4 linked regions of the Homo sapiens genome follow. The protein of the gene in region 4 purifies or fractionates together with the protein of the main gene of each other region. This does not show direct contact. Each region holds a gene or a part of one and is shown on either strand. Other genes may lie near its edges. The genes, in order: TRAF7, CARS2, TLN1 and RGCC.

What was found.
Region 1: the proteins of RGCC (region 4) and TRAF7 purify together in Homo sapiens (affinity purification with mass spectrometry; 3 studies listed by BioGRID and IntAct, with this or other methods). This does not show direct contact.
Region 2: the proteins of RGCC (region 4) and CARS2 purify together in Homo sapiens (affinity purification with mass spectrometry; 3 studies listed by BioGRID and IntAct, with this or other methods). This does not show direct contact.
Region 3: the proteins of RGCC (region 4) and TLN1 purify together in Homo sapiens (affinity purification with mass spectrometry; 3 studies listed by BioGRID and IntAct, with this or other methods). This does not show direct contact.

The regions. Positions count from the first base shown.
Region 1 is NC_000016.10:2,165,754-2,172,781, reverse strand, and holds part of TRAF7 (E3 ubiquitin-protein ligase TRAF7), read right to left. Parts: intron 6,926-7,028; exon of another isoform or gene 6,904-6,925; coding exon 6,846-6,903; intron 4,706-6,845; coding exon 4,614-4,705; intron 2,169-4,613; coding exon 2,052-2,168; intron 1,519-2,051; coding exon 1,426-1,518; intron 1,211-1,425; coding exon 1,177-1,210; intron 592-1,176; coding exon 408-591; intron 318-407; coding exon 183-317; intron 1-182. UniProt on the Homo sapiens protein: E3 ubiquitin and SUMO-protein ligase that plays a role in different biological processes such as innate immunity, inflammation or apoptosis. Potentiates MAP3K3-mediated activation of JUN/AP1 and DDIT3 transcriptional regulators.
Region 2 is NC_000013.11:110,696,100-110,703,127, forward strand, and holds part of CARS2 (probable cysteine--tRNA ligase, mitochondrial), read right to left. Parts: intron 5,457-7,028; coding exon 5,339-5,456; intron 1,869-5,338; exon of another isoform or gene 1,867-1,868; coding exon of another isoform or gene 1,819-1,866; intron 1-1,818. UniProt on the Homo sapiens protein: Mitochondrial cysteine-specific aminoacyl-tRNA synthetase that catalyzes the ATP-dependent ligation of cysteine to tRNA(Cys). In addition to its role as an aminoacyl-tRNA synthetase, has also cysteine persulfide synthase activity.
Region 3 is NC_000009.12:35,696,448-35,701,223, forward strand, and holds the end of TLN1 (talin-1), read right to left. Parts: intron 3,930-4,776; coding exon 3,744-3,929; intron 3,635-3,743; coding exon 3,527-3,634; intron 3,015-3,526; coding exon 2,909-3,014; intron 2,710-2,908; coding exon 2,585-2,709; intron 2,487-2,584; coding exon 2,361-2,486; intron 2,233-2,360; coding exon 2,170-2,232; intron 2,059-2,169; coding exon 1,876-2,058; intron 1,726-1,875; coding exon 1,597-1,725; intron 1,470-1,596; coding exon 1,344-1,469; 3' UTR 501-1,343; downstream 1-500. UniProt on the Homo sapiens protein: High molecular weight cytoskeletal protein concentrated at regions of cell-matrix and cell-cell contacts. Involved in connections of major cytoskeletal structures to the plasma membrane.
Region 4 is NC_000013.11:41,452,984-41,460,564, forward strand, and holds the start of RGCC (regulator of cell cycle RGCC), read left to right. Parts: upstream 1-4,566; 5' UTR 4,567-4,724; coding exon 4,725-4,773; intron 4,774-5,301; coding exon 5,302-5,487; intron 5,488-5,988; exon of another isoform or gene 5,989-6,256; intron 6,257-7,581. UniProt on the Homo sapiens protein: Modulates the activity of cell cycle-specific kinases. Enhances CDK1 activity. May contribute to the regulation of the cell cycle. May inhibit growth of glioma cells by promoting arrest of mitotic progression at the G2/M transition.

The sequences.
Region 1 (7,028 bases), on a different chromosome or scaffold from region 4:
TCCTGGACGCCCTCGGCTCCCCCTCTGGGTTTCCAGGGCCTTGGGCCTCAGAGAGGATTACAGACCCCGGTGTGGCCCCAGCTCCGGCCTACCTCCCCGGGACCAGCAAGCGGGCAGCTCTCAGCGGAGCCTGTGGAGGGCCTGCGCCCACCCCGGCCCACCCCCGCCCGCCCCCCACTCACCCGTACTTGGAGTGGGGGCATTTGATGTGCTCGCACTCCTTGAGGTGGGCCTCCAGGTTCATCCTGAGCAGCGGGGGGCAGCTGGGGTTGTTGGGACACCGCACAGGCCTGTAGTCACAGCTGCCCTCGTGGTCCCTGTGCCAGGGCGGGATGCGGGGAGGCCTCAGCCAGAGCCCTGAGAAGCAGCCCCCAGGGAGGCAGAGGTGCCCAGGGAGGGGCACTTACTTCCGGGCGCTGAGCTTGATGGTGAAGGGGCACCCTCGGGGGTCCACCTCAAAGATGGGGGGCTTCCCGCTGCCCGCTACCCGGCAGCCGTGCCGGCAGTGGATGAAGAGCTCCCCGATCTGCTCGGCCACCGCGATGTTGTTCACCACCACGGTCAGTTTGACGTTGTCCACGGGACACTTCTCTGGGAGAGGAGGGCGTGCTGACCCTCACGGCCTGCCTGGCACACGCTCCCTCACCCGGGTGGGCATGAGCCTCTAATGGGGGCCAGATCTGTCCATCTGCGCCTCTGAGGCACGCAACATGGGAACGGGGGCACAGGTGGGCCACCAAGAAGGAGCAGCAGGTGCTGAGGGAGTGTCACCTGTGACACTCAGCTGTGCCCGGAAAAGTGTGGGGTGGGGCCAAGAGGGCAGAGGGCAGAGTGCGGAGAGGCAGGCAGGAGCGGGCGCCGTGCGGGAGGACGACAGCCTCGCCAGTGAGAAAGGCCTCCCCAGAGGGTGCCAACCCTGGCATGGGGAGCCTCGGCCCACACCCACTGTGGGGTCTCTGAGTCTGGACACACTGGAATTTGGGGTGTCCCCACTCTGCTCATGGAGGTCCCGAGCCTCAGCCTGAGCGTCCCTAGGACGGCTGCAGCCCCATCCCAACCCCAGCAGAGGCCAAACAGGGCCGGACGCTGTGCAGGGGACAAGGGAGAAGCCGCCCGCCTCTGCTCGGCAGCCATGGGCACGGTCGGCGTCAGGCCTGGGCCGGGGCACAAACCTACCTGACTTCAAGGCGCATCTCCTACAGAACGTGTGCTGTGGAGGCAAAGGGCGGGCTTGAGGGTGGCGCAGGGTCCTCTTTTTCCCTAGTCCATGGCCATGGCAGCCACAGGCCTCGCTGTACCCCAAGCCCAGTGCAGCCAGGACAGGCCTTGACCAAGGCCAGGGCGCCACAGCCCCGGCCCCCGAGAGCCCTGGGGTCCTGTGGGGGCCTCTGGCAGCAGGGGGGCTGGGAAGGGCGGCGGGCTCACCCCACACGTGGTGATCACGGGGTCTTTGAAGACGCTGCAGCAGAGCTGACAGCACAGCTTCACCGAGGGCTGCTCCGCAAACACCAGTGGCTCCTGGAACCAAGCGGGAAAGGCAGGCGATGGCGGGAGGCCACCCTCAGCCCCGCCACCACCCAGGCACCCAGGCGCTCTTGCTCCAGGCCTGGCTGTCCTCTGAGGACAGGGTCACGTCCTGAGAGAGGCCTGCTTAGAGCTGGGGGGCTTGATCGGGGCCCAGGAGGGAGAGCGAGGTCTGTGGCCCCAGAGGCAGGGCCCAACCCCGGAGGATGAGTTCAGCCGCCCAGCCTTGGCCGCCCTCGCCCGCCTCCTTCCTGGGGTGAGACTAGAAAGGGCCCTGCTGGAGCCCTGTGCTTCCCGCTGCCAGTTCCCGGGCAGCCCTGAGAAGGGGGAGTGGGGGAACATGCCCAGGGGACCCGGCCTGGTCCCTCGAGTCCCCACCACGGACCAGCAAGCACTGCAGTTCCCGTCAGGCCCCAGCCGCCCTCTCCCTGTGAGCTGGGCGGGCATGGCGGAGGGGAAGGTGCCTCCGTGCCACGGCTGCGGTGACAGCCCTGGAAGCCGCTCTGCGCCGAGTCCCCCACACCTACCGGCTCCTCCTCCTCCTCGGGCAGTGAGAATGTGGAGCGCAGAGACATGCTGGACTCTGAGTGCAGGGAGCGGACAGAGATGGCGGAGTCGGAGCGGCGGGGAGTGCTGATGGGGGGCTGTGTGGAGGGAGAGGCGCCTGTCGGGGGGCTCCGCACGGGGTCAGAGCCTCGGGGAGGACAGGACCCAGCCCGGCGGAAGCGCGAGGGCAGCAGCACCCCTGGGGCCACCCCGGTCCCTGCGGGTACTCTCCTCGTCCACGGGGGCCGTGGGTGGGCGTGGGGAGCTGATGCAACCCAGGTCCCTGCCTGCCCGCCTGGGCGGCCTGGGCCGGGGTGCTGGGCTGCCCGCTCACGCCTGCCACCTCTCTTTGTGTAAATGGAGAGACTTCCTGCTATTCAATTCCATATACCCGGGCTGCTTCCTGCTTCCCGTGGGGGAATGTGGGCCGTGAGGGGGCACCTCCACCAGCCAATCCTGGACAGCCGAGGCCGTGACCGCAGGATGGAAGGGCCAGGAATGCTGGCAGGGAGCGACGGCTGGGCTCCAGGTGCCCCCCGGGCCTGGCTGCTTGTCTGGCCTTGCTGGTGGGGGACACCAGGCCCAGCTGGGAGGCTCAGAGGGAAGGCAGGGCCAGGCCCCCAGAGAACCTCGGCTGAGCTTCCCGAGGGCAGGAGTGAGGGCCACAGGTGCCTGCCTCTGGCTGAGCCACCGACAAGGGAGCCTGGGGGAGGGGCAGACACTGTCCCTTCCTCCCCTCTGGCCTGGAAACCTCCAGAAGTTTCCAAGAGCCACACTGCCCAAGGCTTCTCTCCTGGTGCTTTGACTGCAGAGGGGCCCAGCTGCTGCTCTGCCGAGCCTCTGGCCCCCTTCCCGGCAGCCTGGGTATGAAACCCACAGAGCACAGAGGCAAACCAGTCCCAAGGCCGGCGGGGGGCATTGTGTGCCATGTACCCACCTCCCTTTGGGTCCCAAGGGCCCGTCTGCATGGAAGCAGCACATGGGGAACAGAAGGGAGTCAGAGAAAGTGAGTCACAAGGCCCCACAGCAGCAGAGGGAGCCCCAGGGGCGAGAGCAGAGCAGGAGCTGGCACGGGAACCACTCTCCCGGGCCTGCCCAATACTACCCCAGAGTCTCCCACCCTCTTGGGCGTAGGGGCTGACAGCAGGCAGGCCTGGGGGACGGGGGAAGGGCAGGAGGGGGACTCCCTGTGTGGGCCTATCAGCAAACAGAGAAGGTACCCGCCTCTCTTGAAAGCCACCGTGACCCATGGGGATAGCAGGTGATTATGGGAACCACAGACATGGAGGACTCGTGGCTTCGGGTTGTGGAGACCGAGGCAGGCAGAGGCCCAGGGGACGGGGCCCAGACATACCCAACTCGCCCTCGGCCTAGCACAGCGCCCGGCACACAGGTGTGTTTGTTCAATTAATTAAAAACTTCTTTTCTGGCTGAGCAAGGTGGCTCACACTTGTAATCCCAGCACTTTGGAAGGCCAAGGAGGGGGCAGATCAGCTGAGGTCGGGAGTTCGAGACCAGCCTGACCAACATGGAGAAACCCCATCTCTACTAATTCAAAATTAGCCAGGAGTGGTGGTGCACGCCTGTAATCCCAGCTACTCGGGAGGCTGAGGCAGGAGAGTCACTTAAACCCGGGAGGCGGAGGTTGTGGTGAGCTGAGATCACACCATTGCACTCCAGCCTGGGCAGCAAGAGCAAAAGTCCGTCTCAAAAAAAAGAAAAAAGGAAAAAAGAAAAGGCCTCGGTCCCAAGAGGGCCAGCAGGGCCGCCACACCTGGTGTCCAAGCACTGGAGAGAGGCAGCTGCCAGAGAGGCCCCACACACCCCCACCCCCTGCTGGGCCAGTCCTTCATGCCCAGGGTAGAGTTGGCCTCTGTCCCCTGGGTAGGCCCAGAGCCCAGCAATGAGCGCCATTGACCAGGATGGCAGGGAACGGCCACTGAGACCCTGGCCACAGGGCTCAGGTACCAGCAGCCAGCCCCCGACTGCCCTGATCCTTTCTGCACCTCACACAGCCAGCAACAGGGAATTCTCCGGCTCCCCCAGCACTTGGCGCAGGTTCCGCAACCCCCACCCCATTGCCTCTGGTGTCCCCACAGCTTAGGTCCACACACCTTTCCCCCCGCCTCATCAGGACCCCTCCTCAAACCCTGCCTGGACCCAGCAACCCCGCTCATTCCCTACCCAGCAGCAAAGGAAGCTTTCAAAGCATGTATTTTATTGTGCTATCCTCCTGACTGAACTTTCTGTGGTTTCCACCTCCCTTAAGATGGAGCCAAATATGCCTCATCCTGGCCTGCAGGTGCCAGGCCCTCTGACCCAGCTGCCCTCACTGGCTGCCCCCTGCCACCCACAGTCCAGCCACAGGAGCCTCCTTTCTCACAGACTTGCCATGTCTGCCGAGGCCTCAGGGTATCCACAGGTGCTCTTCTTCTCCTGTGCCTCACCAGCTCACTGTCAACTCCTCCTGGGACCTGGTTCCCCCAGGAGGGAGGATGGGGGGAGGCTGAGGCTCACACGGGCTCCTGGGGGTAGGGACCTACCATGCTGTCCTCCTCGTCCCGCGGGGAGTAGGCAAGGGTGCTGGAGGAGGAGGGTGTCCTGCAGTGCTGCTTGTAGGTGCTGGTCCCGTCAGCTGCAAGGCAAGAGGGCTGGCGTCTCAGTGGGGGCTCCCTCAGCAGATGTGGGGGAGGTGGGGCCCATGCTGGATACCCGACCCTGTGGGTCCCCTGTAGCTCACAGCCCTCCCCAGGGCCAGGCAGGCAGGAAAGCATGCAGGGATGGCACGGGGGAAGCTTGGGTTCCCTCTCAAGGTCAAACCAGTGCCAGGAGCATGGACGCTGGGCTCGGTCTACATCTGGACAGTCCCAGCGCTGAGCCCGGTAGCCCCTGCCCCAGCCCTGCCTACCCCAGGCAGGGTCTTCTTTCAGGGCCTCTACAAGCTCCCCAGCACCCCAATTGAGCCAGCTGAGGCTCATGGCCAGCACGCAGCCATCACTCTGAAGGCCGCCTGGCAGCAGCTGGGGGTGCCATTTTATTTGCCTCTTGAGGCACCTCTGCCAGGTGAGTTCCCTGACAGCCTCCACTCACAGAGGGGGAAGCTGAGGTTGAGGTGTGGGCTGGGATACAGAAGGGCCAGGACCGCATCCTGGTGTCCCTGGCACAGCCAGGACCAGGAAGTGGCCCCAGCTTTGGTGGCCTCCTCTGGGGCAGGAGCTGAAGTGCCCTCCCTCCTCCTGCCCACACGTCACCCCAGCTTGGCCAGGGCCAGAGGGCAGGGCTACCGGCCGGTCAGTCCACGTGGGAGGCAGAGAGAGACACCTCCCGGACTCAGGACCAGCCCAGCTCAGATGTCACGATGAGCCCTGGGCTCGAGATTGAGGCCTCGAGAGGCTGCCGTGTGACTGGGCCTCGGTTTCCCCATCTGTCATGAGGGGCCAGGTGAGGTACCTGTGGGCGCCCTGCTGCCTGGCTCTGCCCATCCCTGCCGCCGAGGGGCCAGGCATAGCAGCCGTGCCCTGCCCCATCATGGGTACCTTCCGCCGTGTGACAGGGGCCATGGGGCTTCTAAGGGTAGATGAAAAGGCACCGTTTTTTGGGGGGTAGGATTAGAAAAAAAAAGAGGGCCCCTGGAGAGCCCCTGAGGGGATCACCAGCAGCAAAGAGGCGCTACTGTAAGCAGGTGTCCTTGGCGGCCCTATGACCCCATGGCCAGGTTTATCAGAGCAATTAAAAAGCTAATTAGCAGCCAGTGTGCTTCTACAAAGGGCAGAGTGCCAGAAAGGAGAGAGAACAAAGTCACCCCAGAACCCCACCCCGGAATGAGGGTCCCTGGCCCTGCACCTCGGGAAGAAGGCACTGCCACTTCCGCATGGTCTCCCTGAGCACGGCGCTTGCGTTCAAAGCGCAGCACTCTGGTTTTTAGGGGATAGGACTGAGAAGCAGCAGGGAAGCTTCAGGTTTCTGTCGTGTATCCCGCCCAGTGGTCTTGTGCAGGTGAAGATTTATTGGGCTTGGCTTGCTGGCTCATGCCTGTAATTCCAGCACTTTGGGAGGCCAAGGCAGGAGGATCACGTGAGCCCAGGAATTTGAGACCATCCTGGGCAACATGGTGAGACCTCATCTCTACCAAACATAAAAAAAATTAGCCAGGTGTGGTGGTGCCTGTGGTCCCAGCTACCTGGGAGGCTGAGGTGGCAGGACTGATCCCAGGAGGCACAGGTTGCAGTGAGCCAAGATTGCGCCACTGCATTCCAGCTTGGGTGACAGAGTGACACCCGTCTCAAAAAAACAAACCAGACTTATGGATCTCTTCCACTCTCCCTCCCTTCCTATTAACATGTCACAACTGCAGCACTGTTACTGAAGCCCTAGGGCCAAACTCAAGAGAAGACCTCCGGGCACACGGGACCTTTCGGAGGCTGGCCAGGAGCCTGAGACTGGGGACAAGCTGGGGATCACTGTGACAAGGGACAGGGCTGTGTGGTGGTGCTGGAGATGTCAGGGCAAGCCTCCCTAGAGGGGATGAAGAGGGCAGGGAGAGAGGGCACAGCACAGTCACCGAGGCACAAGGAGCAGGACACCCGACTCCTGTCCAGTGGGGAGGCCCAGGGCTGAGAGGCTGTGAGGACACAGGCTGCGGTGTGAGGCTGCCCGCGCCCAGCACTGGCACCCAACACCAGCTCACCGGGAAGTGTCCCTCAGTCCTTAGCAGGGTGGGCATGGGGGTGCCCCGGTTATTCCCAGCCTGGGCTGGCCTTGGCTTAAGGGCTCACCTTTTGTGATGGTGGTGACGGCTGAAAAGGCGGGTCCGAAGGTCGTTTCCATTCTGGTCTAGAGGGAGGACGGAGGAGACCTGGCCTCATTCCGGGACACAAGGAGGACGTGCACATGTGGAGCCCACTCACATGCCTAACACGCGACCAGGCCAGGCCACGCAGCACTCACACACTTAACCA
Region 2 (7,028 bases), about 69 Mb from region 4:
GACATGAACCCATCCTTTTCTATGGCTGCACAGTATTCCATGTGCCACATTTTCTTCATCCAGTCTATCACTGATGGGCATCTGGGTTGGTTCCAAGTCTTTGCTATTGTGGACAGTGCTGCAATAAACATACGTGTGTATGTGTCTTTATAGTAGAATGATTTATAATCCTTTGGGTATATACCCAGTAATGGGATTGCTGGGTTAAATGGTATTTCTGGTTCTAGATCCTTGAGGAATCGCAACACTGTCTTCCACAATGGTTGAACTAATTTACACTCCCACCAACAGTGTAAAAGCGTTCCTATTTCTCCACATCCTCGCCAGCATCTGTTGTTTCCTGACTTTTTAATGATCGCCATTCTAACTGGCATGAGATGTTATCTCACTGTGGTTTTGATTTGCATTTCTTAAAGAATTACCTTTTCACTAAATACTAAAAAACAGATGTTTTCATAACTATGGGTTTCAGATACATGTTTTATTACATTGAAGTCAGACATTATTTTGAGGAAAGAAACTATTCAATACCATCTTAGGATCTTGCTGTGTACCAAGTATGGAAATTCTCTGGTTCAAAAATTAACTACTCTCTACAGTTAGAATGTTTAACCAATTCTACCAAGTTTTTCATATTCTAATCATAACATTTTTAAAAAAGTTAACAACCAATCCCTCCTTGTGGCATCTGTGAAATTAACTCTTGCTTCTTCCTCCCTTTACCACGCTGGCCACCTCCTCCTTCCTGCAGTTCTCTGCTCCCTGGATTCGGGGCTCTTGTCCCGCTTCTCTGATGGCAACGTTCCTGCCCCACCTTCCCCATCGCCCCCATGACACCCTCCAAGTACACTGTGTCCTCACCTCTCCTCCCATCCCCTGCGGGGCCCTTTCTCTGTCCCATGGGGCTCCCTCCAGAACTCAGCCAGTGTCTCAGCCTCTACCAGCTCCCTGCCACCAGGACATGGGGACTGACACAATTCTTTCTGATCTTGAAGATTCATGAGAGGCACGAAGCTACCAAGTGCTTTCATTTCAGGCTCTGGCTGCCCCGACGGCAGGTGAAAGCCCCGAACCACTGACCTTCCTTCTTTACCAGTGGGGCATTTCCAAACACCACCTCTGCTGAGGGTTACCTGGTGACTAGACATTCACGCACAGCCTTAGACATCACGCACCTGCCTTCTAAATCCTGCCTCTTATAGGCTGGGGGTAAGGATGTGAAGAAATACATTTAAAGTGGGAGCCGATTTCCAGCACTGCCAGTCTCTCAATGATCTGACTCTCAGTTGCAAGATATCAAATAAACTGTTCCCCCTTTGACCTAGCAATTCCGCTTTGGAAATTAATTAACTTTTTATTTAGAGACAGAGTCTCACCCTGTGGCCCAGGCTGGAGTGCAGTGGCACGATCTCAGCTCACTGCAACCTCCACCTCCCGGGTTCAAGTACTTCTCGTGTCTCAGCCTCTCGAGTAGCTGGGATTACAGGTGCACACCTCCACACCCAGCTAATTTTTTGTGTTTTAGTAGAGACAGCGTTTTGCCATGTTGGCCAGACTGGTCTCTAACTCCTGGGCTTAAGTGATCCAGCCTTCCAAAGTATAGGATTACAGGCGTGAGCCACTGCACCCAGCCACAGGAAATATATTTATAAGTAAACAAAACAAAAGCATATATGTTCATAGCAGCACTCTTTTTAACAGCCAGAAGCAATACAAACAGCAATTGGGAAAAGGCTAGAACTGCTAAACAGCCCCATGCGGTGGGAGACTACCCAGTTATGAGAAAGACAAATCAATAGAAAATAGGAAGACAGAGACCTCAGTGAAAATGTTCCTCAAGGACCTCACACCATTCCTTTGACTCATGCCTAAGAGACAAGAGAAGAGCTCTGTTCACTCAACAAATGACAAAGTTCAGCCTCTTTTCAGATAAACGCCCCAGCCCAAAGGCGGCCTCTGACTTCCAATCCAAATCTTTAGTCACTAGTTCCACCCCATTTCACAAAAGGAAGATGCATGGGTGTGACGGGAGGTTAAAGAGGAAGGGAAGCCACAATGACAGACAAATGCTATAATTCAAATCTCACTGACTTAAAAAGTATGTATATGTATATTTTTTTTTCAAAAAAAGAAATCCAGGCCAGGCGTGGTGGCTCACACCTGTAATCCTAGCACTTTGGGAGGCCGAGGAGGGCGGATCACCTGAGATCAGGAGTTCGAGACCAGCCTGGCCAACGTGGTGAAACCCCGTCTCTACTAAAAATACAAAAATTAGCCAGGCATGGTGGTGGGTGTCTGTAATCCCAGCTACTCGGGAGGCTGAGGCAGGAGAATCGCCTGACCCCGGGATGTGGAGGTTGCAGTGAGCGGAGATAGCACCATTGCACTCCAGCCTGTGCAACAAGAGTGAAATTCTGTCTCAAAAAAAAAAAAATCCAGCAAGTTTTTTTTAAAAAGCACCAGAAACACTGCTATGGTTTGAATGTTTGTCCCCTCCAAAACTCATGTTGAAATTTATTTGCCCTTGTAACAGTATTAAGAGGTGAGAACTTGAAGAAGTGATTAGGCCGTGAGGGCCCCACCCTCTTGGATGGGCTTCATGCCTTCTTAAAAGGGCTTTCCGGCCAGGTGCAGTGGCTCACACCTGTAATCCTAGCACTTTGGGAGGCCGAGGCAGGAGGATTGCTTGAGCTCAGGAGTTTGAGACCAGCCTGGGCAACATAGTGAAACCGCATCTCTACTAAAAATAGAAAAAAGAAAAAAATTAGTCATGTGTGGTGGTGCACAGCTGAGTCCCAGCTACCAGGAGGGCTGAGGTGGGAGAACAGCTTGAGCCCAGGAGATCAAGGCTGCACTGAACTATGACCACACCACTGCACTCCAGCCTAGGCGACACAGTGTGACCCTGTCTCCAAAAAAAAAGAAAAAAAAACCCAAGGAGGGGTGGGGGCAGGGGGCTTTTGGCAGGGCTTCTTTCTCTCCCCTTGACCTCTTGCCCTCCACCATGGGATGATGCAGTAAGAGGGCCCTTGCCAGATGCTGGCACCTTGATCTTGGTTTCCAGCCTCCAGCATAGTGAGCAAATACGTTTCTATTCATTATAAATTACCCAACCTGTGGTGTTCTGTTACAGCAGCACAAAACAGACTAAGACAAACACCGTCTAATGCTCTTGGAGGGTCAAACTGCCAAACAGCAGCCCACCACTGGACAATCCACAGGTGGTCTCCACAAAAAGCAGAGAGAACAGGGGTGGAACAGGTGCTGACCATGGACGCCGGTGACAGGTGCATGGGTTCATATGCTCTTCTCTCTACTTCATGTATGTTAGAACATTTCCACTGTAACACATGCTGGTAAAAGCAGTGGTAACTGGCAAAGTATCACAAGACTACATCTCGTCTACATCAAAATTAGGTCAGCTTTACTTAAATTCCTTCATCAGATTCAGGAAAAGGAAATAGCCAGTCATCCTAACTAACACACAAATGAATAGACTGTCTTGTATGCTAAACCACAGTGAATTGTGAAAATGGGCAAAAATGTCCAGAGAGAATGGTGATTAGAGGAAGCACCCGCAATGGAGAAAGCCGACACAAGACAGCATGTGGGGCAAAGAGTGACAGCGTTTCATCAGAATGGCTTCTTTAGGAAAAGTCTTCCTCACCAGCAGTTAAAGTCAAAGGACCCACCAAAGCCCTTCCGGTAGAAGTGATGTGCGGGGCACTGGCCCCCAGCCAACAGGGAGAGCCCGAGGAGGCGCCTCCAATGTCCCACCTGCCTGTACAACCTCATCCACTGTGTCTTCCCAAAGCTTGCCAGGCACCACACTCCAGGTGTGGGCCAGACTCCAGTGGGGCCCTCAGCCTGCACGGGAAAGAGACTTCTGCTACCCGCCACAAGTGCGCAGGCCATTCCCACCTGGCAGGGGTACTTGCCCAGAGATAGCTGAAGTCAGAGCTGTGGGAGTGGCCCTGCCCCTGAAGGTCTGTGCAACCTCAAGATGTGATCACCTTAACCTCTTGACTCTTCTGCAAGATGGGGACACATCCAATGAACCTGAGTGGAGGGCCACCTTACAAAATCAAAGTCCTACAATCCTTGACAGTGTCAAGGACATGAGACAGGGAACTACTGAAGACTGAAGGAGACCGAGGAGACAACAGGACTCTGGAAGGGGTTCTAGAACAGAAAAGAAAGAGGCGCTCGGGGACAGGGACAACACCTGGGGTTGACGTCCATGTCACCCACACCAGCGCACTGCATCAATGTCCGGTTCCTGACTGGGAGGGCTGTGCGGGCCTCGAGAGCCAGTGACCTTGCTCTGAAGGCACGCGTGGCGTGTGCAGAGAGGGGAGGCGGCCTGGTGGGAAAAGTCTAGAACAGAGAGAAGATGATGGCCCAACGCAGCCAACAATGGCCACGAGGAAACCCAGGGTGGCTGCAGGAGATCTTTGTACTATTCTTGTCATTTTTCTGTAGATCTCAAATCGCTTCAAATAATTTTTTAATATGGAATAAAATGTGTTAAAAAAAGCACAATAAGGTCTGCTCTGCGCAGCACACAGGGTTGTTCTGAGACTGAAATACTAATAGATACAAAAAGTACTTTTTAAACTATCAAGACACAGACATGAAAGGCATCATTAGCACAAATATGAATACGTCCAATCAGTGGGTCTGGTTCCCTCAGTAAAGAGAAAGTCAAGTCATTTCCCTTGGAGGCCGAGGGGCCAGGGGAGGGAGTAAGATTGGAGCCAGGAGACGACCACAGAAGGAGGTAACGACACGAGGCCACAGAAAAGCCTTCAGCGATCACAATACGATAGATGTTAACTTCCTTTACTAGGGCACCAAAGAAACCCTGCTAACCCAGCACTGTTTCATGTCTCAGATTACACCCACTGGCCACACATGGACAATAAGATGTGAGAACTACTTGTAAAATGCAAACAAGAACCACTTTCTTTTTTCTTTTTTTTTTTGAGACAGAGTCTCCATGACCCAGGTTGGAGTGCAGTGGCACAATCTCCGCTCATTGCAACCTTCGCCCCCCCAGGGTCAAGCGATTCTCCTGCCTGAGCCTCCTGAGGAGCTGGGATTACAGGAGCCCGCCACCACACCTGACTAATTTTTGTATTTTTAGTACAGACAAGGTTTCACCATGTTTGTCAGGCTGGCCTCAAACTCCTGACCTCAAGTGATCCACCTGTCTTGGCCTCCCAAAGTGCTGGGATTACAGGCGTAAGCTACCACGCCCGGCCAAGAACCACTTTCAGGAAGGGCTCAGAACACTAATCAATGGCATTATCAATAGATGTAACTCTTCTCCACTTACCTCATTGGCTCTTTTGATGATTTTATCATCTACATCTGTAATACCCATCACCATGACTATGCTGCATCCAAAAACCTTGGTTAGGATCCTTCGAATGATATCAAATCTAACATATGAGCTGAAAGAAAAAAAGTGTCAGGATGTCTTTATTACACAAAGTCATCAGTTATCTTTGTAAAAAATCCATTACATTTTAACATGCTGCTCCATAACTTCTACTGTGTAGCACAATGGACAGGTCAGCGGAGCAGGTACAAGGAAACTCCCTCTCACTGATGGCACCAGGGCCTGCGCCACAAGGGTTCTCAGGAGAAACTGACAAAGGTATTGCATCAATTTCAGGACACAATATTAGCATTTTTAATTTTGGAGTTGTTGCTTAAGTGAGTTGAAGTCTATTTAATTGTATAAAAATTCACTCATAATACAATCTCTCAGTTAAGATCGTGTTTTCACCATTCTTGTTCATGTTCTAGAGTAATTCTAATTTTTCACTATGACAAAACAGAAGCAAATACCAAATCAAAACAAGTACGATCCCATTAAAGCCATATAAGATTACTCCTAAGAATGCACACACTAGTGTAGAATATTTAAAAATGCCAGCTTATTTATATACTACACTGGGGTAATTCAGACTTGTAAAACTAAAAGGGTTTAAAATCTACTTAGCATCTCAAGAATCTGTTTTCCCATAAAAGTTACCTTAAAACTCAAGGTTATCTAATGTCACACTCACCTCTGCTATCCATGTGGCCTAAATTTCAGTTCGTAAAATTGTTTTCTCTTAGGGTGGTGTGGGGGAATCCTAGCCATGTTATTGTATCACTTTAACCTCCCACACACCCCCTCCCTCTCCAAACACAGCTGAGACCAAATCTTGATTCCAGGGACAAAACTATCTCCAAAACTCAACAAGATAATTAACCTCTTACAGCTCAGTCGGCTTGCTTATAAATTTGGCAAAATCCCACCACCTAACAGGACTGCTGTCCAGCCTTACCGCCTGTGCAGCATGAATTCTAAAAACACAAGCTATTATTACCATTCTCATCACCATGCTCCTTCATTCACCTCAAGTTGGGAAAGAGTCTAAAAGATGTGAGATTTACAAGAAAAAAATTACAGGAACCTAAAGCAAATGAAAACAAGAGTCAAGTCCCTTGCTTGGCCCAGAGGAGCCCAGGCTGAGTCCCGGAACTGCCCTTGGAGACAGCAGAGGCTCCACAGCTTGGCAGAGCTGGCGGAATGCAGGGTCATGAGCAATTTGAGACCCTGAGACGCTGCAGGCAGGCTGTGACCACAGGGGCCACTCTATACACAAACACGCACACACACGCCTTGCAAGTGCCGGGCAGCCAAGTCTGAAGAACATGGCATCAGGAGACCTCAGCTTGCTTCTGTGACTCCACCATGAACCATGCTACCGTCAGCCCGGCTCTTTCTGCCCCATTTTCTCCATCCACTGGGTGAGTGTGCTCATCTGGGTGATCGCTGAAATGATTCATTTGCTAAGAGTCTTCCCTCAAAACGCTCCAGTGTGACTCCGTCTACCATGGCATGAAATCCAAACTCTCTGGGCCAGACCACGCAGCACCCTCCCCAGTCTGGCTGCAACTGACGCCCCATCCCTTCCCCTGCTCCTCCCCCCTAGCACCAAACTGATCTATTTGTTTTCCCCAAACAGGGT
Region 3 (4,776 bases), on a different chromosome or scaffold from region 4:
ATCTACTTCAAGCTTTCCCTAATGTGGTGGGAGTAGAAGGTGTTAGTAGCAGATGGGTGGCGTTTGTGTTCTACTTGAGGAAATAATGTACTGGGCGGTAGGGCTGACTAAAGAATCACGCATGAAAATAGTTGCCAACCTAAGACGACTGTCAGAGAGTCCATGCATTATGGACAGAGTGGCTGGATGGGGACGTGGAAGCACACAGCATCCACCTCTCTGACTGCCTCTTTCCACTGACCCACCAGATAAGCAGGGTGGCTGGAACAGGGCTGCTAGCACCTTCCTGGCCACTAGGGGAGCTCTGCCCCCTCTAACAATAAATTCTCACACCTGGGTCAAGCTCTTCACTTTTAGCGCTACCCTAGGCAGGAGTGTCCCAACCCAATCAAGAGCGGTGCCTACCCGAGGCAGCCTCAAGTTGGGATTTTTCTGCTTGCTAATGGCTTCAATCAGTTTTGTGGCCATAGTTCTCTTAGGCTCAGACACTTACAGGCATATTATTTTTAGCAAAGCTTCTTTTGAAAATTTGAATTTGGTCAAGGACTGGATTTGTTGACATACCCTGAGTAGCTATGAAGAACAGAATGTCCTGGTAGCCACAAGGAACTGTGGTAGCTGCTGTCCCAGCAGCAGCAGAACGACACTTTGTGAGGCTTAGGTGCTGGCCAGGGAGGTGAGGATAACAGGAGTATGACTTCTCAGGCACAACTTCCCCATTGGATAACTTTAGGGTCCGGGTGCAAGGAGGAAGGGACCTCAGGTGCAGACTGCCAGTCTTCCCCTCTCCCATTTCAAGCTGGATCAAGCTGGGTGACAGAATTCAACCCCACTGTCTCTCCTACTGCCCTGGGAGAAAACTTGTATCTCCCTTGAAGCCAGGCAGAGGTTGTAGGTAGAATCATTTTTATTGGAGCATGACCTGTTTGGGGCTTATAACTCTGCAGCCCCTATGGGTAGCTGGGGGTGGGGGAAGATAGTATCAAAAAACGGTGAAGAGAGCTGATGAGGCTGTGGGGACTGGCCGGAAGCTGCTGGCAGGGTGGAGTGGGCTGGGGCCCCGGCAGATTCAGATCGAGGTACAGCAGCGTTAATAATACTCTTGGAGCGTTAATACTCTGGGGAGGGGCAGGCACTTGGGGGGCCCTAGGGCATGAAGGCACTTGGGGTTGGGGAGGGGACAGGGGATGTACTGCGGGACTGGGCGGGGCCAGGCCCTGGGGTTTGGCAGGCACTTTGGGGAGTGCTGGGGTTGGGCAGGTTGGGCCCCGACAGCCCAGAAGGCTTTGGTAGTGGCACGCACAGTCTCTGGGCCGGGTCTGCATTAAATAGAAGAGGCTTCTTTAGTGCTCATCTCGAAGCTCTGAAGGCAGAAACTTGTACTGCTGCTGCCGGATCTGGGCCAGTTTCTTCCGCGCCTCTTCCAGCTCTCGTTCCTTCCGAAGCATTTCTTCCTGTGCTGCGATGATCTGAGGGTGGAGATCGGGGACTTAGTTCAGTGAGGATGCACAGCAGGGGCATAGGGTAGTTGGGACCAGCGCAGGCAACATGACTGCCCTCCTGACAGCGTCCCTCAGCATCTGGGGTGAAGCTCACCTGGGCAATGCCGCCAACCATCTTCTCTTTCACCACCACTGTCTCATTCTCCTGCTCTTCAAAGGCTGCAGCCTTCTGTGCTGCTTTCACCAGATTATCTGAGGCTCGCTTCACTGCGTTGCCAGCAGCCTGGGCAGAGAGAAAGTGGCCTAGGTTGAGAACTCAGGTACGGTCCCAGTTGAGACAGTACCTCAATTCTCTCATAGAAACATACATCTCGGGAGTGACAGTTTGAAGCAGTATAGCCCAAGGGACAATGGGATGGGTCAGGGTTCTCACCTGAAGTCGTTTCATTGCCTCCGAGTCCTGGTCAGCCTTGACCTTGCAGGCCACAAGGAGCTGGGCTGTGGAGGCAGCTACCTGCTTGGCTGATGAGATGAGCTTCTCCTGGCTGGCATGGCCTTGTACAGCTGCATTGGCTGCCTCACACAGATTGTTGGTGGCCGCAGCCACCATCCGGGCCTAAAGCAGGGAGAGTTTGCTTAAAAATATGCCCCTTGCCCTGGTCCATCCCCACTCCAGCCTTCTCAAGTCTCTCAAACTGAGAGAGACCTAGTGGTATTGCACACTTACAGCAGAAATGAGGCCCTGGGACCACTGCCCATCGTCCAGTGCATTGGCTGGAATGGCACCCACCTGTAGGAAGGAGAAGAGCCTACTTAGACCTGCATTTTCCTCACTTCAAAGACTCGCTGGCTATGGATGTGGATGTGGACATCAAAGTGCCAACCTGTCCCCATTCTTCTGGGTATTTAAGCACTCACCTTCCCTTGGGCCACTAGTTCTCTCTGGGCAGCCGACGCAGCCTTTACCAGTGCACTGGTGGCTGCTGCAATGGACTTGGCAGCTTCTAGTATCTGCTCCTCAAAGTTCAAGGACTCATCTGCCTCCTGCAATAAGCGAAGGTTGCAGAAAGAGATGTAAAGTCAGAGATGAAGGTGGGGACACTGCCATGGTGAGGGTGGAAGAGGAAGGGAGCAGGACTGACCTTGGGTTTGGCCCGGGGCTTCAGCTGCTCTAGCTTTTTGGCTGCAGCCTCAATGGCGGCTGCAGCTCCCAGGAGCTCATTCTCAGCAATGACTGTGGGGTCCTCTGGGTCTACCCATTCTGTTCCTGGTGGGATGAAGGAAGAGGAAAGAGGCTAAGGCAGAGTGGGGAGGTCAAAAGCACCAGGGAGCATGGTTAGTATCATCAGGCCCTGGCATCTGTGGGGACTATGGTCAGAGGCTAGCACAGAGCTGTCCAGCCAGGAAGCAGAGATCACACCATGATAAGGGTTTTCCATCCGTCCCTGTCCCTGGTCACCCCTCACCCTTCATGGCTTCAGCAGCCTGGATGAGCTCAGTGACGGAACCAGCCACACGCTTTGAATGTCCTGTCAACTGCTGCTTCAGTTCTGGGCTTGGCTTCTGCAGGGTCTGGGCAAGAAGCGGGCAGGGGACAAAGAGCATCACATCTTAGGGTCTACCCTGATCTATGAAATAGGGCAGACCATGGCCCCCTCACCCCTATCCCTAGAGCACTCCACACCATAGCCCTCAAACTCCACGCTGCCTATCCAAGTACACATCATGCATCACACCTCACACGTGATAGAGACAGTGGGGCTGTGTCACTCACCGGCTGACAAGGAGCAAGGAGAATGATGAGATGAAAGAGGAGACGACGAAAGTAGAGAAGGGGGTGGTCAGGTGGGAAGGGAGGAGAAAAGAAAAAGAGGAAGAGGAAGAGGTGACTGGGAGAACCAAAGATGATAAGAAGGATGGGGCCTGGGAGAAAGGGAGACTTGGAAAGGAGAACAGATTTGGGAAGTAGAGGGTGGGGTAGGGAGGAGATCTGAGCAAAACAGACAGCAGGGTGCGAGGCCTGCAGGAAGAGGGCTGTGTATTCAGGGAGGCTGGTATGAGGAACAAGCAACGCCCTCCCTTACCAGCAGTACATGGTCCAGCAGTTCCAGGTAGCCATTGGCACACTCCCGGCCATAGTGCAGGGCTCGAAGCCGCACATCAGGGGCCACTTCTGGGTGGTAAGCTGCTTCCTGTCCCCAGAGTAATATGTTAGCTTTAGGCCCCGCAGATCCCTACAGTTTCTCTCCCACTATGTTCTGGCCCAAAGCTGCCTCACGGAAATGCCTCAAGGATTTCTACCTTGCAAGCCCGAAGCATATCTGCAATAGCACGGCGGCTCAGATTGGCTGTGGCAATGACATCTTCCTGGCGACAGGAATTGCCAGCAGCAACGGCCTTGGCGGTTGCCATGGTGATACCCTTGGTCATTCGGATGAAGTCTTCTGGGGTAGAGGTCTTGGCAGGTGGCTCTGGGGAACAGAAAACCTGTGGGGGCAGAAGAAGAAGAAAGATTTTACAGTGGCTGAGACTATGAGACAGCGTAGAACTCTGTGTGCATGTGATTTGGTGCAGACATTCACACATCACAGTGAATGTAACAAGGCAGTTGGTTATTGTTTCTGACTGAAGCAACTGGGGAGTTTGTTTGTTTGTTTGAAATCACAAAAGTAATTACAAAAGTGGCTTTTGGCTGGGTTTTCATTCCCAAAATAGAGAGAAGCCTTGAAGGGGTGAGAGGCAGAGCTAGGCCATAAAAGATATACAGATGATAGGAGGGCATTTTAGGTAAATGGTAGGACATGAACAACCAAGATGTCACATCGGAAAGTATCAAGGAATGTTCTGGAATATAGGAATGGTGAAGAAAAGGTTATTGGGGACTTGAATATCACACCGAGGAACTTGGACTTTTACATAATATGTGAAAGTCATAAAATATTTTGATGTACGGGTTCAATCTGCAAACATTTATTAAAGATCAGCTAGGTGGCAGATTCTATGCAAGGGGCTAGGGATGCTCCCTGTTCTCATGGAGCTTACATTCTGGTTTTGGACACAGGTAATAAATAAATAAACAAGCAGCAAAACTGAGGACTGTGATTTGGATTATGAGAGAATAGAGACAGTGCTGTGATGAGAACTACTTCAAATAGGTGGTCAGGGAAGGGCTCTCTGAGGAGGTGACATTGAGGCTGAAGCCTGATGAACTGGAAGGAGCACAGTGTTCAAAAAGCTGGAGAGAACTGAGTGGAAGAGCCTGCAGCAGATAAGAGCTTGGCATGTTCTCAGAACTGATGGTGCAGGGGGATGGGGCACAGAAAGGAAGAGAGTA
Region 4 (7,581 bases):
CACCCACTCAGATATTGGGAGTCATATCAGCCTCTCATCTCCATGGATATTGGGAATAATATCCCAGGGTGGGTGTACACCTCCTGCTGTATGGGGAGTCATATCGTCCTCCCCCATCCTGGCAATTAGGAACAATATCACAGGGTGGGTGTCCACAGCCTGCGATATTGGGACTCATATCACCCTCTCCCCCTCCGGATATTAGGAACAATATCACAGAAGGGTTGTATATTTCCTGCGATACTGCGAGTAATAGCATTCTCTTCTTCCGTGAATATTAGGAGCAATATCACCGGGTGGATGTACACCCACTGCTATATTGGGAGTAACGTCATACTCCACCCCCTGGATGTTATATTCGGATCAATATAACCGGGTGGGTGTACACCTACTGTGATATTGAAAGTAATATCATGCTCTCTCCTTTCCGTGGACATTAGGAACAGTATCACAGGTGGGTGTACACCCACTGCGGTATTAGGAGTAATATTAGTATGAATTATTACACCTTGATTATTAACATGAATATGAATTACCAATATTAATATTAAGAAATAATTGCTAATAAAAAGTTTTCAGATTATTAATATTAATATTATTAGGAGCTAATATTACTGTTTTCTAATGAATAAGATCAGTATCAGTTATTAATATCAGGTGTTATTAATAATTAATATTAATAATTTATTTTTATCATTGGTAGAACTATGTAATAGAAATTATGATTATCGGTATTGATTTAAAAATATCAGTTATTAATATTGATATTATTAATATCAATCAATAATTGATGTTTTAATATCAATCAATAATTGATGTTATTAATATCAATCAATAATTGATGTTATTAATTGCGATAAGTAATATTGCGACATTCCTCACAATATCGCAGAAAATGTACACCCCTCTGTGATGTTGTTCCGAATAGTCAGGGGTAGACGATGGCATTACTCCAAATATCGCACTGGGTGTACATTCCTTCTGTGATCTTGTTGCTAATATCCAGGCTGGGAGAGGATGGTATTAATCCCAATAATCCAGAAGGTGTAGACCTCCCCTGTGATATTGTCCCTAATATCCAAAGGTGGAGAGGAAGATATATCACCCAATTTCGCAGGGGTTGGACACCACCCCTGTGATATTGTTTCTAATGTCCACGGGTAGAGAAAATGACATAACTCACAGTATGGCAGGGGGTGAACACTCCCTCCATGATATTGTTCCTAATACTCGGGGGTAAGAGTATGATATTACTCCCAATATCATAGGGGGTGTACTCCCAATATCCCAGGGGGTGTATAGTATCCCGACCGGTGATAGACTCCGCCACGATGCGGGGAGTAATATCACGCCCCTCTCCTTCCCTGGCTATTACGATACACATCGCAGGGGGGCGGGCGACGCTCGCGACGCGGGGAGAAATATCAGCCCCTCCTGACATTACAAGCCACATGGCAGGGGATGGACACCCCCAGTGATGCGGGGAGTAATATCTACCCCCCCTTCCCCATGGATATTAGGAGCCACATCGAAGGCGTGTGGACAGCCCCCGCTGATGCGCAGAGTAATATCAACCTCCGTCCCTCCCTGCATGTTAGCAGCCACTGTGGACACACAGTGTATTTACGATATTTCCAGTAAGATTATCTTTTCTATTGAACCTTATGAACAAGATCACAGGGGGGTGTACACATCCTGCGATATTGGGGGTAATATCATTCTCTCCTCCACAGCATACTGGGAACAATATCACAGGGGCGTGTATTCCCCCTTTCTTATTGGGAGTCATATCATACTTGCCTTCCATATATTAAGAACAATATCAAAGGGGGGGGTGGACACTTTGACGATATTGGGAGTAACATCATTCTCTCTATCCCTGGATATTAGTAGCAATATCACAGGGGGATGTACATTTCTTGTGATATTGAGAGTAGTATTATTGTCTTCCCCACTGGATATTAAAAACAATACCACATGGGGTGTCAAACCACCTGCCAAATTTGAGGGAATCTTATCCTCTCCCCTGCACCCCCCGCGCCCCGGATATTACAGACAATAACACAGGGGTAATGTACACCCACTGCTTTATTGGGAGAAGCATCATCCTCTCCTCCCTTAGATATTAGGAACAATATCATGGGGAGGGGGTGTACTGCCTCGGCGATATTGGGAGGAAAATTATCCTCTCTTCCCCTGGATATTAGGAAGGGTATCAGAGGGGGGAGAGTGTACATTCCCTGTGATATTCAATGTAATCTTATCCTCTCCCTCCCAGGGTATTAAGAAAAATATTACAGGAGGGTGTACACCCCCTGCAATACTGAGAGTCATATCATCCTCTTTCGCTCTGGATATTAGGAACAATATCACAGGGTTGTGTACTCCCCCTGCGATATTGGGAGTAATATCATTCTCTCTCCCTGTGGATTTTAGGAAGAGTATTACAGGGCTGTGTACACCCCCTGCGCTATTGGGAGTAATATCATCCTCTCTCCCTCTGGATAGTAGGAAGAGTTTCATAGGGGTGTGTACACCCCCTGTGATATTGGGAGTAATATCATCCTGTCGCCCTGAGGAGAGAAGCCATTTCGCTACTGTCTCCTGTCTCTGAAGAGGAGGAGGAAGTAAAAGTTGGAAAACAACAGGAATGAAGTCAGTGTCAAGACCAGCCGGTGGCAATGAGGAGCCGGCCTGAGGTGAAACAATCAACCCCCGTGACTCTAAGTACATGTGCTCTCAATCCATCAAGACCCTTTCACGTGGAACCCCTTAAAGCTGTAAGCCCTTAAACGGGCCAGGAACTCTGTCTTCCTTCCGGGAGCTCGGCTCTTAAGACGCGAGTCTGCCGAAGCTCCCAGCGGAATAAAAAAAACTCTTCCTTCTTTAATCCGCTGTCTGAGGGGTTTTGTCCGCTGCTCATCCATGCTCCATTTCTTTGTTCCCTGACCGGGAATCGAACGCAGGCAGCAGCGGTGAGAGCACCGAATCCTAAGCACTAGACCACCAGGGGAACTTAGAACCTTGTGGGAAATAGATTGCGCACCATTAGAAGTGGGTTGGCCATCAGAAGGAAGCCTGGACAGGTCCCTTGTTTCTAAGGCGTGGCACAAGGTAACTGGTAAAGATACCTAGACCAGTTCCCATACATAGACACTTGGTGACAGCTGGTGCTAGAACCCCCACAGTGGCTGAGGGCATGCAGCAGCAATACTAGTAGCAAAGGGACAGATAGCTAAGGAAGGATCCCGCTCCACTCACCCAGGGAAATCAACTCCTGAAGTTCTGTTCGACCCCACATCAGAGGATCCATTGCAGGAGATGGCACCAGAGATCCCAGTGGTGTCCTCCCCTTAACAGGGAAAGAGGCTCCCCACTCTTGAGCCCACAGTGCTTGTGCCTCCACAAGACAAGCATATCCCTAGGCCACCCAGAGTAGACAAGAGAGGAGGACTATTCATATGATTAGTGGTCATTAACATATACTCCTTTGTGAGGTGTATGTTTCAATGTTTTGCTCATTTTTAATTTTTACCAGGTTGTCTATTTGTGATTACTTTGTAGATGGGTCTTTCTATATTCTGAAAACAAATCCTGGCTGGGTGCGGTGGCTCACGCCTGTAATCCCAGCACTTTGGGAGGCTGAGGTGGGCAGATCACCTGAGGTCGGGAGTTCGAGACCAGCCTGGCCAACATGGACAAACCCCGTCTCTGCTAAAAATACAAAAACTAGCTGGGAGTGGAGGCTGAATGTTTCACTCCGTTACATGTTAATTGCTCTACATTTAATTAGCCGTCTGTGGTGAGAGGCGAGAGGCTAGCGCCTAGCTCAGCGCACAGTCCAGGGCGTTCGCCCCCGCAGGCCGCGGGGCAGGGTGGCTCGTTACTCCGTGGACACTGCAAGGCGCCCTGTTCGCGCTGCGTCGACGCAGTAGTTTCTTCCCATAATAAACCCCTTCTAGATAAAGTCAGGCTGGCGGGAGCGCCCTGGACCGTAGTTCAGGCCCCCGCGCTCCGCGGTGGGAACAGTTCAGGACTCCCCCAACTCCTGCCCCTCTCGCCCCGACCCTCTCCACTCCGCCCGCCCACCATCTCGGAAGTCCCCTTGGGACAATGCGTAGGGGACCTCCGCGTCCCCGACACCCGACTGGGACACGGCCGCGGGCTCCTTCGTCCCTCACCGCCAGCCAGGGAGGCTCTGCATGCCCACGTCCACTTCACAGCCGAGGAAGCTGCGGCTCGCGGAGGTGCCTGGCACGCGGCGGGAAGCAGCAGAGCTCGCGCCCAGCAGTCAGCTCTGGTGACGCCGAGGACACCGCGTGGGCCGGGTTGTCAGGGCGCGGGGGCGAGAGGCGGGTAAATATTTGGGGCTGTAACCGGGGCTTCGGCGACTCCTCGTCACCGCGGTTCCAGGGCGGGCGCGTGGCGAGGGCGGTGCCTGGGGGCAGGGGCCTCCTCGGAGGGCGGCGGGGACAGACCCGTCGCCCCGGCTCCGCAGCCCCGCCCCGGCCCCGCCTCCGCTCCGGCCGCCGAAGGCTATAAGATCTAGGAACCCGAGCCGGTGGTAGGGCGGGCGCGGACCGTGCTGGGAGCGGCGCGGCTGGAGCGCAGCGCCGAAGGGACTGGCAGGGCTGAAGTGTGCGGGACAGCAAGCCCCCGAATAGCCCCGGCTGCCACCTCGCAGGACCCAAGGCCACGCGCGCCGGGCCCAGCTGAGCCGCCTCATGAAGCCGCCCGCGGCGCAGGGCAGCCCCGCGGCCGCCGCGGCCGCAGGTGAGTGCGGGGTCCGGGGTCCCCTTAAAGTCTCGGCTCTGCAGATGGCGGGTGAGAAAGGAGGGGCCCCGTGTCGTCCCTTCACACCCCCCACCCTTCCATCCTCCCCGGCGGGAACCTGTCCCCGGTCTTCCCGCGCGGGCGGCTGCAGCCTCCTTTCCGGCCCGGGCTGGCCCCCATGTCCCACCTTCCCTCCACCACCAGCTCCGCGCGCGCCCGGGGTTGGGGGGAGCGGCGGGGACAGGTAACCGGCAGCGCCTGGGGAGGAATCTGGCCGCGCCAAGTCGCTGGGTGACCCTGGGCCTGGCGAAGGCTCAGTTTTCTTGTCTGTAAAACGGACTTGGTAATAGAACGCACTTCGGGGGTGGTGGAGAAGATTACAAGGTAACAGCGACTGCGTGGCTGTCACTTGGCAGAGGCGCCAAGTGTCAGTTATCTTCGGGAACCGTGGCGGCCCCTCCTGGCCCTGGGAGGTGGTCCCGCTGCCCCCCTGACTTCCGTGCACTGAGCCCCTGGCCCTGCCCGCAGCCCCGGCCCTGGACTCGGCGGCCGCGGAGGACCTGTCGGACGCGCTGTGCGAGTTTGACGCGGTGCTGGCCGACTTCGCGTCGCCCTTCCACGAGCGCCACTTCCACTACGAGGAGCACCTGGAGCGCATGAAGCGGCGCAGCAGCGCCAGTGTCAGCGACAGCAGCGGCTTCAGCGACTCGGAGAGTAAGTGCGGCCCCCGCTAGGATGGCGCCGGGATCTCCCAGCTCCCAGGACCTGCCCCGCGAAGGCTGCGGCCTCAGTTTTCTTATCAGTAAACTGAGGAATGGTTTCCTGAAGCTCAACGCAGTAGGCCGAGTGGTGGCGGGGCCCCTGACGATAATCACGGGAAAGGTCGCTGGAGGGCAGGTTGGTTCACTTGCCGCCCACGGGTGTGTCACCAGGCAGGCGAGTTTAAGCAGCTTGTCCCGACTCAGCCAGACAGGACTCCCTGGACCTGCACCAGGCCTTTCCGCAGTTTCCCTCCTCTTCTCCTTTCCGTGCCTCTCCCCTCTCAGCTGTAACTTTGCAGATGTGGAACAAGTGCCAGTGGAATGAGGGGGCACAGTGGGGACATGGGAGGGCGCAGAACGGAAATATTCATGAAACCAGGAAAGGTTTCATAAGCCCAAACTGCTGTTCTTGGGATTTATGAAATAACTGCTTGCATTGTCTTCTGGCCCTTAGCTCTCAGACTTGTTGCTCCATTGCATGCAGTTATGAAAATCTTTGGCACTGCTGAGTTCAAGTATTTTTCAGCCAGGTCCTCCACCAGGCTGGAGGGGGAGCCAGAGAGCACATGGGCATGAAGGTGGTTCCTGGTGATCTTTCTCACAATGGAGACTACCCCAGGGTCTCTTTGTCCTGAACAACTTTGTCAACAACAGCAACAACAACAAAAACAACAAAAGAGACAGCTTTTTCCAGGAACTCACATGTCCTGGGAGGATTACAGGTACCTCAAACAGCAAATTAGGTGCCTTTTTAATATTACATGATTGTTGGTTTCAAATCCAGAATTGCTTATTGTTTTTCAAAGGGCAAAGTCAATTTTAAACTCTTCTGTGTTATTCTTCAGCCTTTAATCCTTAGATGGGTTACAGGCATGAATGTCACTCCTTTTGCTGCCCTTGACTCAGGACGTGAAAGTAATGGCCTTTCCGTGTGATTCTCTTATTTTGAAACCTGGAGCTCTTCCTTGTTCCTGGGCTAAGATTCGGGGCTAGACATGAACATGAGCTGCCCTTCTGCAAAGGGATAAATGCGCTCACCACCCTGGTCAGGGTTTGACTCAGGAAGCTGAGTTCCAGCTTGTTTCCTTGGCAGCACTGCCAAAGAGTTAGACCAAGCTGCAGCTTTTGAGGTGAAAGGGGATGGAAGAAAGTACTGTTACTTTTCCACTTAGAATTTTTGGACTTTGTTCTTAATGAATAGGTTCATTTTCAATTTCAAAGCAAAGTGTTAACATTTTTGAAATTTGTCTCAATTCTAAAGGCCAAACTTAAATATGTCTCCTCCTACTGGGGCATGGAGCAAGTTATTCATCAAATACAGATTCTCGCATGGAAAAGAAAGCTAGGATAGTGTGTCGCTGCTGCTCTGTGGCAAAGAACAGCTCCTTTCTAAGCAACAGCCTCACTCTACTAGAATAGGTCTGAGCGCGCCCATTCATGGCTGATTGCAACTTCCACTGGGTGGGATTTCAGATCTAGAATCTGTTTTCAGATGCCTTAAAGAGAAGACATAGAAACACATTCTTAACAGTTTCAGGGGAGATAGTTGGGATAGTTTGTAGTTTTGCTTAGGTTATATGTGTCTGTTTTCTGCTTTTGTTGTTAACGGACTAACCCTTAGTTTGGTGGTTAGAGAAGTGATGGGAAGAACATAAAGAAAGCTCAGATGACATTTGTCTTTGCTTTAAATGTGTAGTTTTTCTCTCACAAGGCTAGTCAGAAATATTGTTGGCAGAAGCTGTGTGTATCTAAATAGTAATTTCTTAAGGAAGCATAATATGTATATCTTAATTGCTGCCAAGAATTGAGTACAGACATTTGTTATCCTCGTTTGTCTGTTTAATGCTTTTCTATGGGAGAGAATGCTTAAGAGAGGTAGATACTACTGAAATTTAGCTCATCAAGAGGGAGACACACCAGGATAAGGATAATAACAGCAGCTCACTTTTAGCAAACGCTTGTTATGATGATGATGATGATTTATTAGCTGGAATGGGAACCATGTCTTCACGAATAGACTGAAGTCCTTTTGAGCCCAGATCACATG